Homo sapiens: one gene and its partner. The protein of the gene in region 2 interacts with the protein of the main gene of each other region in a biochemical or structural test. Each region holds a gene or a part of one and is shown on either strand. Other genes may lie near its edges.

Region 1 (6,225 bases), on a different chromosome or scaffold from region 2:
AAGCTGACCCAGATAGTGTCCACTTTTTTAAATTTTTTTATTTATTTATTTTGAGACAGAGTCTCACTCTCGCCCAGGCTAGAGTGCAGTGGCACAATCTTAGCTCACTGCAACCTCTGCCTCCCGGGTTCAAGCGATTCTCCTGCCTCAGCCTCCTGAGTAGCTGGGATTACAGGCACACACCACCACGCCCGGCTAATTTTTTTTGTATTTTTAGTAGAGATGTTGGCCAGGCTGGTCTTGAACTCCTGACCTCAGGTGATCCCCCTGCCTCAGCCTCCCAAAGTGCTGGGATTACAGGCGTGAGCCACCGTGCTCGGCCTTGAACCAAGGTTTCTAAGATGCTCTTAGCCTCCTTGGATCTGGCCTAGCCCACCTTTCCATCTTAGCTTTTCTGCACAACCGCCCACAGCTAGCTCAGCCTACGCCTCAGCCAATCTGGTTCCCGACGATGCAGAGCCGGCATTGGCTGCAGAAGCCAGGCCTAGTCCTGTCCAGGGCCCCCTGGCCGCAGACAAATGCTACAGACACGGCTCGTAGCACATGGTTCTCTTTATTGTGATGCTCAGTGGAAAACATCTGTAAACCAGCTTACTGTAGTGGTGACAGCTGCAACACATGCTAAGGCACTTTTATTATATAAAAAAGGGGGTAGGGTGGGAGTTTCACTCACTCCTTTGTGACAGCAACTGGGACCTGAATTCAGAGCTTTGTAGGCATATGCAGCTTTTATATCACTTCATGATTTGAGAGTTTGTTTCCTTTAAAAAAAAAAAATGCCTTCTTGCCGTAAGTCTCAATGCAGCATATACAAAACAGTTAGGAATACAAGTAAATTCGGCAACCAGTGTAGACCAGTGAGGACGAGCTACTCTCTTCTAAACAAAGGCAGTGAGAAAGACTCGGAATTTTATCATTTATTACAAGAAAGGGGAAAAAAGAAAACCTTATTTTGCTTTCAAAAATACCTGTGCAGGTGGCAGATTTTTAAACTATACTGAGTCAACGGTGCAGGTAAACCACCCTCGGGCCCAGTCCTAGAGTAGACACAAGATCGCCTGGGAGGGCCGCTGGCCCCTCTAACGCTCTGGCTGTCAGACTTGGGACAAGTCCCTTAACCATTAAATATATTTGGTCCCCAAGAGTGTTGGGAGAAGCCACTGGAAGGCTGCTGGCCTTTCCAGCTTGACCCCGACAGCCTTGCTGTGGCAGAGGCAGGCTGTCCTCGGTAAAGGAGGGGAGGGGGCATTGCACTTGAGACATTTTAGAATCAGGAGGGAGACAGCGGACAGTGGCGCTGCCTGGGACAGGGTGGGGAGGAATCCACTCCTCCCCCCACCCCAGCCTTCTGTGCCCTGCACAGAGGTGGAGGCCCAGGGCCTGCTCCTTCTGGACCGCCCAGAGCCATGGGAGTGGGAGGCCCAAGGGGCAGAGGTGTGTGAGGTCACCACGTGTGATTGCAAACAGCAAAGAAAGGAGGAGGAGTGGGGGCGCTGGTGGCAGACGTCAGGGAGGCTGACGACTGCGGGGGCTCCGACTACCAAAAGGCCTCAGTCTGAAGAAAAATAGATTCATAGAAAACTCTGGCCCCTCCCCGGGGGCCTGCCCTGCTCGCCTCAACATCTTGTGCTTTTTGGCAAGAGAGGGCTGAGGAGCCTGCTGGTCGCTCTCTGCCTGGGCCCGGGCCCTGTCTCTTTGGTATCAGATTCTGAGCAGGGGAGGGAGCTGGAAGGGGATGCAGCAGAGGAAGCCAAATGCCCTCAACAACACCTGGAGGGAAACGGGATGGGGGGACGGGGCGGAGGGCAGGAGGAGGCATGTTCACAGCAGTCCCAAGAAGGTGGGGAGAGGCGTGCTGCGGGGTCTGGGAAGGGGAGGCTGTGGTGTCTGTCTGTCCATCCATCTCAGGCTGCAGGAGAAGAGGCTTATTCGGCAGGTTTGGCCTCAGCCCCATCCGCTTTGCCATCTACCTCTTCGTCGGAGCCATCCCCGGCGCCTTTCCGGGCCATTCGGCGGGGCACGACAAACGGCAGGTCCCCGCGCCTGGGGGCAGAGGTAGAAGCAGAGGGTCAGCGGGCCCGGCCAGGCCAGGGGCGGCCACAGCACAGCCCACACATCTCAAAGTGAATTCGAGAGGGAAACCAGGTGCCTGGCTGCTCCCACCAGAAAGAAGCAAAGTGGAGTCTTGGGAGCCACAGCTGAGCTAGACAGGACCACTCTCAGGAAAGCAGGCAAAGCTTCCCGCAAAATGTTTAGGTGTCGGACATCTTCACACACAACAGTAGCACAAAAACAGCTCAGGCAAACAGGACCAATTACAACAGGAAAGGCACAAAAGTAAGTGTAAAATGCCATCCTCTGTTGCAACTCCTATAAAACCGGTGAAACCAAGACAGGTAAACAGGTGTGCCTGTTCACACAGAGTACAAAGACAGGCACCCTCTTTCTACCACATGGCAGAAAATTCATATACAATACTGACTACTTATGCTTACAAAAAGAGCCCCATGAAGGCCTGGCACGGTGGCTCATCCTTGTAATCTCAGCTCTCTGGGAGGCCGAGGCGGGTGGAGCACCTGAGGTCAGGAGTTTGAGACCAGCCTGACCAACATGGTAAAACCCCGTCTCCACTAAAAATACAAAAATTAGCCGGGCATAGTGGTGCATGCCTGTAATCCCAGCTACTCCAGGGGCTGAGGGAGGAGAATCGCTTGAACCCGGGAGGCAGAGGTTGCAGCAAGCCGAGATTACACCATTGCACTCCAGTCTGGGCAACAAGAGCGAAACTCCGTCTCAAAAAAAAAAAACAAAAAAAATAAAAAAAACACGTAAACACATAAGAAAAAAACATGTAAGAAATGAGTATCTCAAAAAACACAAAATGAGAGTCTCAAAAAACCCACAAAAAAACACGTAAGAAATGAGAATCTCAGAGAATAAGATCCTCTGCTTCAAACATTCACTACTTCTTGAGTGTTAACACTCCCTGAGAAACGCAAAGGAGCGTTTTTAACCTCTGTAGGCATTGCTCATGAGGCTCACATTCGTTTTGCAGATATTTAACTGAGGCACCTAACATGTGCCAGGACTGGGCCAGGTGGCCTCAAGCAACTTCCAATTCAAAAGACAATAGACTTTTAGGACAGCTGGGAATAAACTACCTAGAGTTTACTGTGTGTTCAAAACACTAAGCTAAAGCCTCAAAGGCAAGGAGCCAGAAGGGGCAGGGATTGCTTTGTGCAGTCCTTTCTTGGTGACATTCGTGCCTTGCTTGTGGGCTCTGGTTGAGGAACAAGCTACCTTTTGAGAGAAGTGCCGAGGCAAAGGGGCGGGTGGGCAGGGCGGCTCACCTGAGCTTGTTCTTTAGGGAGCTGACTTCGCGGTTCATGGCATCGGCCGTCTCAGTGGCGTCCTCCAGCTCGCGCTGCAGTTTCCGGCGGGAGGCGTTGGCCCGCTGGGCCTCCTCTTCGGCCTCCTCCAGCTGCCGCTTGAGCTGCTTCAGGCGGGTAGATGCCTTGTCGGCCTGCGGAGATGGACGTGTGGCCCGTGGCCCCGGTTAGGGGCTCTGGGCGTGCAGCCAGTCAGCCCCACTGCCCTGCCTGTCACCCCATCTGCTGCCCAGCCCCGCTGCCCTTCTCACTGCCCCACCAGCGCCCACACCTGGTCCTTGTACTGCTCGGCGTTCCTCCGCTCGTCATCCACCTGCAGCAGCACATCCTTCAGCTTCTTCTCGGTCCGACGCACCTGTTTGCAGGCTGCCTGGCGCTCCCTGCATGACAGACAAGGTGGCTCAGAGGGAACACCCTCCTTCAGAGGGTCCGGCCAACAAGCCCTAACCAGGACCACCCATTCCCCGGGGCTCACTGGCATCTAGGGATCACGTAGGGAGGCCTTTGCTAGACACCTATGTGTACCCGGCTTCTTACGACGGGCACTGCAAATAGCCCCATTTACAGATGAGGAAATGGGCTCAGGTAAGGGAAGCGACACACCTCAAAGAGCATCTATGTAACTGGAAAAGAGGTCTGGGGGCCTACTGTAAACCCCATTCCCTCCAAGGAAGTCTCAGTCCTGCTGAGCCCATAGGACAACTGTCCTAGTGGGCAGGACCCCCCTGTACCTCCTGCTCTGATTCACTCTCAGACACAGCCACCAAAACTCCTGGCTTTAGAGGTGGAACAGAGAATCCTGTTCAAACCCCACAAGCTCCCCCAACCACCCAACCTGTGGAAGGGATGAGGGCCCCATCAGGAGGGAGGGAAACAGCCCCAGGCTCAGGAGACAGAGAGCTGGTTGTGGCCCAGATTTGGGCAGGACTGCAGGGGGGCCAGAGTTTTTTCCAGGACAGCTGGGGTTGGGCGGGGCCAGGGGCACGTACTTGGTCTCGTTGTCCAGCTGCTCCTCCAGCTGTGCAATCTTGGCCTCGAGGGCGGTGATGGAGGCCTTGTACTTGGACTTGACAGTGCCCTCCATCTCCTGCAGCTTGACCTTAAGCTCCTTGTTCTGGCGTTCCAGCTGCTGCCGAGCATTCTCGTTCTTCTGGGCGTGGCTGCGCTCCAGGTTCAGGTCGGTGTTGATCTGGTCGATCTGCAGAAGAAGGGCCAGTGACCTTGGGGAGGGCTGGGGCCCTGGCTGGAGGGCATGAGCAGGGCCAGAGGAAGGTGGCAGCAGGATCCCACCAAACCCTTGGGGTCCAGAGTCTTGGGTCTCCCAGAAAAGGGAAGATTAGAAACTTCTGAACACCCAACACAGAAGCCAGAGGGGGACCTTTCAGGTCCAGGTGCCTGGACATTTTCCCCTAAGCGCCTGGGGAGCAGCTGGCACTTGGCCTGTGCTTCTGCCGGCTGGGTCCAAGGCCAGCTCTGCCGTGGTGGCTCCAGCCAGAGCCCAGAGTGGGAGAAGTCCTGGCACCCACCTGCAGGTTGGCCTTCTTCAGCCGGTCGTTGATCAGCTCCGTGTTGCCCTGCTCCTCCTCCAGCTCCTCCTCCAGCTGGGCGATGCGGGCCTCCAGACGCCGCTTCTCCTCTAACGCCAGGGCTCTGCGGGGTGGGCGGGAGAAGTGAGGGGCCTACCCTGGGGACACACCTGGTCCCCCCCAACTCTGCCCCCTCACTCAGCTCACCCTTTGCCGCTGCTGTTGGCGATCTCGTCAGCCAGCTCATCCCGCTCCTGCTGGGCCTGGCGCTTGGCACGCTCCGCGGCTGCCAGTTCCTGCCACAAAGACCCAGAGTGTGACCTAAAGGCAGCCACAGCCCCACAAGACCATCCTTCCCAGCCCCAGGCACCCTCCCCTCAAGCCCTTCCCCAGGCCCACCTCCCCACGAAGCCCTTCCTCCAGAAACCCTCTAGCTCACAGGGCTGGTGCCCCCCTGAAGATATAGCTTAAACACCATATGTTTATAAAACTCTTACATTTAAGTGCTAGGAATCAAGCCAGGTGCCAGGGTATGGCGATAAGTAAGAAGTGTCCTGGCCTAACCAGGGAGACCACGTGGACAGAGTCACTCAGGGCGGCCCCTCCCTGTTCTGGGTAAGCCAGAGCTTGGAGTCAGCTCTGGAGGCCACAGGCAGATGGCTACACCCTGGACGCACTCGCAGCCGGCACATCACGCTGCAGGGCACCCTCCAGACCTGGGAAACACTTCAGGACGGGCTCAGGTGCGACGGGCAGGGCGGCCGAGGGGACGCTCAGACCCCTTCTCACCAGGCAGCATTCACAGCAGGAGGTGGTGGTGGCCACAAAGCCTCATCTCATGTGAGGGATGCCAGTTTCACACACACACACACTCTGATCATACGAGGGAGCCCCGCTATGAAACGGAACCCTGGAGGGAATCCTTATGTAACCTGAGAGCCATCCCCAGCCAATTCCTGGAGCCCAGTAGGACTCCAGCCCTGTCCTCAGCTGAAAGCCCCACGCTGCCACCTGCTGGCCGCAGGGCAGCGGTGCCGCTCTCCATTGCAGCCCCACCCACCTCCTGCAACTGGATCATCTCGGCCTCCATGCTCTTCAGCTTCTTCTCGTTCTCTTTGGCCTGGGCCAGGATCTCCTCACGAGAGGCGCGGGTGTCATCCAGCTCGCGCATGCAGTCCTTCATCTGGGCCTGGGGTGGGGACAGAGGCTTGGCACCCCACCCAGCTCCTTGGCCCTCCACCCCAACCCTCATGGGTCACCTCGCCAACAGGGCTCATGGCTGGTGCTCCACTCAATGCTGTATTTAACCA
Region 2 (7,037 bases):
AAATAAAAAATAAAAAAAAAATGGGCTGGGAGTGGTGGTGCACACCTGTAGTCCCAGCTACTTGGGAGACTGAAGCACAAGAATCACTTGAACCCAGCAGGCAGAGGTTGCAGTGAGTGGAGATTGTGCCACTGCACCCCAGCCTGGGTGACAGAGTGAGAATGTGAGTCAAAAAAAGAAAAAAGAAAAATTCCTCATGACCTGGGGTTAAGGTTCCTAGACATGACACCAAAAACATGATCCACCAATGGCATGATGGATAAGACTTCATCAAAATTAAGTCTGTGCTTCAAAAGACACTATCAACAAAGTAAAGAGAGAATAGGAGAAATTACAAATCATATACCTGGTAAGAGACTTGTACCCAGAATATATAAAGACTCTTACTACCCAATAAGACAACTAAAAAAATGGGTAAATAATTTGAATAAACACTGCTTTAAGGAAGATACACAAATAGCCAATAAGCACAAGAAAGAATGCTCAACATAGTATCAGAGAATAGCAAACCAAAACTAGATAGAGATCCCATTTCATATCCACTAGAGTGACTAAAATCAAAATGTCAGGTAAACAAGTATTGGCAAGGATGCAGAGAAAATGGAACCTGCATACACTGCTGGTGGGAAAGTAAAAAGATGTAGCTGCTTTGGGAAACAATGACAGCTCCTCAAATGATTAACATAGTTATCATATAACCTAAAAATTCTACTCCTAGGTAAGAAATGAAAACACATATGCACATAAAGACTTGTACACGTTTATAGCAGCTTTAGTCAGGACAGCCAAAGGGTGGAAATACCCAAAATGTCCAACTTACAAATGTATAAACAAAGTGCTACAGCCATACAATGAAGTATTTTCAGACATACTAATGAATGTGCTGATACATGCTCGAATATAGATGAACCTCTTAAGACATGTAAAGTGAAGGAAGCCAGTAACCAAAGACCACGTATTATGATTCCATGTACATGAAATGTCCAGAATAAGGAAATCTATGAGATGAAAAGAGGTAGTATGGATGGCGGGGGATGACAGGAGAAGGATAAAAGCTAAACTATACAAGGTTTCTATCTGAGGTGATGAAAACATTCTAAAATTGATTATTGGAATGGTTGCATTTATCTGTGTATATACTAAAAGCTACTGAATTACACACCTTAAATGGGTGAAATGTATGTTGTTACAATAAAGCGTTTTTCTTAATTATATATGATCCCATTTATAACATGCTTGAAGACAAAAATATGGAGATGGGGATTAGATCAGTGGTTTCCAAGGTTTAGGGGCTGGGAGTAGGGTGTGTAGAGTACAAAGAGAGCACGAGAGTTTTTACGGTGATTGAACTCTTCAATACTCTGACTGTGGAGGTGTTTACACATATCTATACTTAAAATTCACCAAACCATACACCAAAAAAGTTAATTTTACTTTACTCAAAAAATTTTGTTAAATGTCAAAGAGAATAAAATTAAAAGAAAAATAGCCTCTTCCCCCGACAATTCATTCCTAAAATGAGCAAGATAGGAATCACAGGGTGAATGGACTGCCATGGCCTGGAGTGAGGTATTAGGGTCCAGGCAGGATGAGGAGGACATTCCTGCTCAGCATAGGATGCGAAGCCTAAGCAGGGTGAGGAAGACATTCATGTGGGGAGATGACCTACAATAGAGAATCAGGCCAGGCGCAGTGGCTCACACCTGTAATCCCAGCAATTTGGGAGGCCCAGGCGGGCGGATCACCTGATGTCCGGAGTTCGAGACCAGCCTGACCAACATGGAGAAACCCCGTCTCTACCAAAAATTAAAAATTAGCCAGGTGTGGCAGCGCATGCCTGTAATCCCAGCTACTTGGGAGGCTGAGGCAGGAGAATCGCTTGAACCCAGGAGGCGGAGGTTGCAGTAAGCCGAGATCGCGCGACTGCACTCCAGTCTGGGCAACAAGAGTGAAACTCCACCTTAAAAAAAAAAAACCCCACAAATAATCAAATAGGAATCAGGTTTCTCACTGGTACTGAAAACGGTTATAAATGTGGAGAAGGAAAAAATGAAAATGAAGCCCATGGGATCAGAATTTATATGTGAATTCATGGTTTTCAATATACATAGATGCAGAAATATAGATGTAAAGACATGCATTATATATACACACCAACGGCAATTGCACACTAGCACAGATCTTGGCTTTTAAATATTACTCACTAAAGAGAACCCAGGCTCTACGGAAAAATGGCTGATTCTTGGGTTAGGTCGAGGACAGCATGAGAAGCCTGGTATATCTTATGCCAGAGAGTAACAAATTCATTGAATAATGATGGGAATGTGTCAGAAGGACACAGAGGCCACCCAGAATGGACTTCTACCAGCCAAATGTACAATAATTTTGAGCACCAATGTAATGATAATAGGTTTTTTAACCTGCTGAATAAAATAGAAAATAATGAGTTTATAGAGATACGATAAATTTAAAGTCTGATCAGAAACAAGGTAGTATTTTGCAACTATCTTCTCAAGAAATAATTATAAAAATAACTACAGTGGAGAAGTCTGGCAGACACTACCTTAATCAGTCATCTAAGAAACACCATCAGAAATGAGACAAACTGAAATTATTAAACAATGACAGGATGCACTTCTATCACATTCCTGCCAAAGATGAATAACCTCAATCTAATCATGAAGTATCAGACAGAACTCAAAATAAGGGGTGTTCTACAAAACTAGCCCATAATTGTCAAAAGTACTAAGTTGTAAAAGGAAACAAATGAGAATTTGTTCCAGAATGAAGTAAACTAAAGACAGCTGACATCTAAATGAAAGGCATGATTCTGACTGGATCCTCTTGCTATATGGACATTATTGGGACAATCAGTTCAATGTGAATGAAGTGAAGATCTGAGGATTAGAGGGTAGTAATGTGTCAACGTAAATTTCCTGATTCTAATGGTTGCATTGTAGTCATGTAAGATAATTTGAAGCAGATAGTAATCAGTAATGAGGAATCATGTCTTCAACTAAATCACAAATGGTTCAGAAAGAAAAAAATTATCTGTAACTTTTCTATGCATGAGATTTAAAATTTTTTCAAGAGTTAAAAAGGGCAAAAAATAAAAAGGACATAAATAGGATATTGAATAAAATGTCTATAGACAATTCCTACCTATATGCCTAAATCACTTACAATCAAAATGATGCCACTGATATACAATTAGTGACCTTACTTTGCTTTCTGCCACAAAGGACTCACCTAATTACCATGATCACACTTCTCTTTTGTGTTAATCCACTTCTATTGTTAGGGTTTTAACTATTTTTAAACTTCTTGACATAAAGTAATCCCTCAAGTAATAATATTCTAATTAAGAAATTTACATTAACTCTTAATTTACTTAAAATACATTTATGGACTTTTTCCTTTATTAAAATTGTTTTCAGCACTATAATTTTGTGTGAATTGTTATACTTAGACAAAGGGGTACACAATTCCTATTTAGAAAATTTTATTGAATATCATACTTATCAAAAGAAAAAGTTAATTTTCCCCAAAGGCACCCTTCATTTCACATGATCTATACTCTAATGTTCTTTTGTATTAAAAATATGGTTAAATATGGAATTAGTAAAATGCAGCATATAAAACTTCATGCTGAGCAAAAACAAGTCCAAAACAACTTTACCATATATCCATAGAATAGTTCCCACAGTACATTTCCTATGTAAATTATGTTTGAATGCAATTTTTAGAACCATTTTAAGATACATTTTGCAATCTGTTAACTGTAGGCATCCGCATTTTTCTTCCATTACATAATCTGTTTATCTGATTAAGTTGGCAATATCTGCTAGGATCCACAGAATGCAGGAAAAAAAGCAGTTATTTCTCAAGGTTTGAGAAATCTGGTCCACCTTTAGTGTAGTTTCCTGAGATTTCTGCTCCACTGAAGTCAAAACCAGGATTCTAAAAGATACAAACATATATATAATGAAATAAAACTTATAAGGAAAAATACAAGTACAAACTGGCAATTGATAAAAAAGGATATATAAATGACCAATAAATACATGAAAATATAACAGACTTCACTGTTACCACCAAAGTAATATTTAAAATTATGAGGCATTTTTCAACTCTCCCAGTTACAAATATTTAGACATCATATGTACACTACAATGTTGGCAAGTGTATGGGGAAACATATACTTCAATAAAAGTCTGTAGTTATATTTAATAGCTAGCATTTTTATTTTATTTATTATTATTTTTTTTGAGACGGAGTTTCGCTCTTGTTGCCCAGGCGGGAGTGCAATGGTGCGACCTCAGCTCACCATAATCTCTGCCTCCCAGGTTCAAGCGATTCTCCTGCCTAAGCCTCCCGAGTAGCTGCGATTACAGGCATGTACCACCATGCCTGGCTAATTTTGTATTTTTAGTAGACACGGGGTTTCTCCATGTTGGTCAGGCTTGTCTTGAACTCCCAACCTCCGGTGATCCGCCTGCCTCAGCCTCCCAAAGTGCTGGGATTACAGGCGTGAGCCATGGCGCCCAGCCTATAGCTAGCATTTTTTGAGAGCTTTCTATATGCCACACAAATTTCTAAGAGCTATACATATATAAGATATTTAACCCTCACAACAGTCCTGTGAAGTACTATGTCAGGCCTTAGTCTTTTTGGTGGGCTATTTCGTTTATCCAACAAACATTTGTTGAGCTCCTACTGTTTGGGAGACCATTAGAGGTATGTAGAATTCAAGAGTGAAAAAAAACAAAAATCCCTGCTCTAGTGGAACTTAACATTCTAGCAGGAGGAGACAAACCATAAATCAACCAGTACAGGGGCTGGCAGACTTTTTAAAAACTAGGTAGTAAATATGTTAGGCTTTGCAGTCCACATAGTCTCTGTCACAAATACTCAACTGTCTGAAAGACAATATACAAACAAATGAGCATATACGTATCCTAGAAAAGCTATAAAACAGGTAGTGGGCCAAATTTGGCCCAAGGGCTGTAGTTTGCCAACCGCTGATGTCGTGTTAAAAGTTGGTAAGTGACACAGAAAAAAAAAAAAAACAGGATAAGGGAAATAAAATTATATTTAAATGGGATGATCAAAGTATGCTTCATTGAGCAATGATATGAAAACATAAAAGTTAGCCAAACTGTGGGAGAAGAGCATTGCAGTCAGGATAGCAAAGGGATGGGCTGACATGTTCTTTAAGGAACAGCAAACAGGCCAGTATGGCAAAAGCAGAATCACTAAGAGGGATAGCTGTAAGGGAGGAGGTAATCAGGGAGATGATGGAATAACTGATCAGAAAGGGCCGAGAAATGACTTGCAGAGTTCTGAGAAGTGGCATGATGTGACTTGGATTTTAAAAGAACTGCTCTAACTGGCTGGGCGCGGTGGTTCACGCCTGTAATCCCGGCACTTTGGGAGGCCAAGGCGGGCGGATCACGAGGTCAAGAGATTGAGACCATCCTGGCCAACACGGTGAAACCCCACCTCTACTAAAAATACAAAAAAATTAGCCGTGCGTGGTGGCGGGAGCCTACAGTCCCAGCTACTCGGGAGGCTGAGGCAGGAGACTGGCGGGAATCCGGGAGGCGGAGCTTGCAGTCAGCAGAGATCGCACCACTCCATCTCAGAAAAAAAAAAAAAAAAAGAACTGCTCTAACTGCTATTTTGAGAAGACTATGGCAAGAGTAAAAGTGAGAAGACCAATTAGAACGTTATTAGAGTAATCAGGCAAGACATTAGAGGTGGTCCAGATCAGAATGGTGGTAGAGTTGGTGGTGAAAAGTGGCCAAATTCTAAATATATTTCGAAGGTAGCATCAGTAAGATTTCCTAATACATTGGATAGGGTATGAGAAAGATGTAAGAATCAAAGATGAGTCCCAATTTTTTTTGACCTGAACTACTAGTTTTCATCAACTGAGATGAAAAGGCTACAGGTAAAAACAAATATGGAAGGATGTTAGGGTGTTCAACTTGGACATGTTGAGCTTAATATACATTAGATAGCCAGGTGGAGATGTTGAATAGGCAACCGGGTATGCAGGTCCTAAATTCAGAAAAAAAGTCTAGGCTAGAGATATACATCTGGAAATCATTATCATAAAGACGTACATTATCAAGTGCTGCAATCTAGCAATTCCTCTCCTAGATATTTATCTTAAAGATATCTTAGAACACTTGAGTAGTTTCACAGAGATGAAAGCACAGCTTTCTTTAAAATAGAGAAAAATGAAGAAATCTAAATCATATCAAAGGCAAACAGCCAAATAATGATGACACATCCAAACTACAGAATCCTCTGAAGCAGTTAAAAAGAATGAGTTTTATACCTATGTATTAGTAGGGAAAGAGACCCACAGCATATTATTAAATAAAAAAGCAACAAGAAGAACAATACACACAGTGTGATCCTCCATTTATGCTAAAAAACAAAACAAAACAAGCAATAGCCAACATATGAGATGAAAATGAGATAGATGCATGGAATGGGGAGAATGGTGGTGAAGGGGCCTTTCACTTTTTACACTAGGTAAGTCTATATTGATTCAACTATAGTAAGAGTTTATTCATGCATTACTGATGTACATAAAAGTAAGCTTAAACTCACAAATCACAGCAATACAAATAAATTCCTCTCAAGAAAATCTTCCGAAAAATCAAATCCATACAAGAAAGGCCATTTTTCTAACAATTCACTTTAAAAATTCTTCTAGAAAATGTTTGTAACTTTTCATAATGACATTTGAGTTTTAATTTCAAATATTTATTTGATGATTTTTATATATTTAATTACACATACTCATACACTTCATCTGACTTACTTCTTTTTGGAATCTCTCTAATGTAAGCTTTCTCTGCATTTGGTCTTGCACCCAAGGATCCGCTGCATATTCAGATTCTAGTAGAGAAGTCCAACAATTTGCTGCATCTCTCTTTGTCTTTGTAAGAACAATACGAACCATTTTTCTGTCCTCTAAAAAAAAAACACACACACACACACGCACAAATAAATTAGAGTTC

The links. Proteins that work in one complex are often made in the same cells at the same time.
Region 1: the proteins of NUDCD2 (region 2) and MYH9 form a complex in vitro, tested with the Homo sapiens proteins (one study listed by BioGRID).

Annotation. Positions count from the first base shown.
Region 1 is NC_000022.11:36,280,743-36,286,967, forward strand, and holds the end of MYH9 (myosin-9), read right to left. Parts: intron 6,166-6,225; exon of another isoform or gene 6,105-6,165; coding exon 5,976-6,104; intron 5,212-5,975; coding exon 5,123-5,211; intron 5,040-5,122; coding exon 4,916-5,039; intron 4,588-4,915; coding exon 4,379-4,587; intron 3,770-4,378; coding exon 3,661-3,769; intron 3,524-3,660; coding exon 3,351-3,523; intron 2,044-3,350; coding exon 1,926-2,043; 3' UTR 538-1,925; downstream 1-537. UniProt on the Homo sapiens protein: Cellular myosin that appears to play a role in cytokinesis, cell shape, and specialized functions such as secretion and capping. Required for cortical actin clearance prior to oocyte exocytosis. Promotes cell motility in conjunction with S100A4.
Region 2 is NC_000005.10:163,450,091-163,457,127, forward strand, and holds part of NUDCD2 (nudC domain-containing protein 2), read right to left. Parts: intron 6,991-7,037; coding exon 6,839-6,990; intron 3,961-6,838; coding exon 3,877-3,960; 3' UTR 1-3,876. UniProt on the Homo sapiens protein: May regulate the LIS1/dynein pathway by stabilizing LIS1 with Hsp90 chaperone.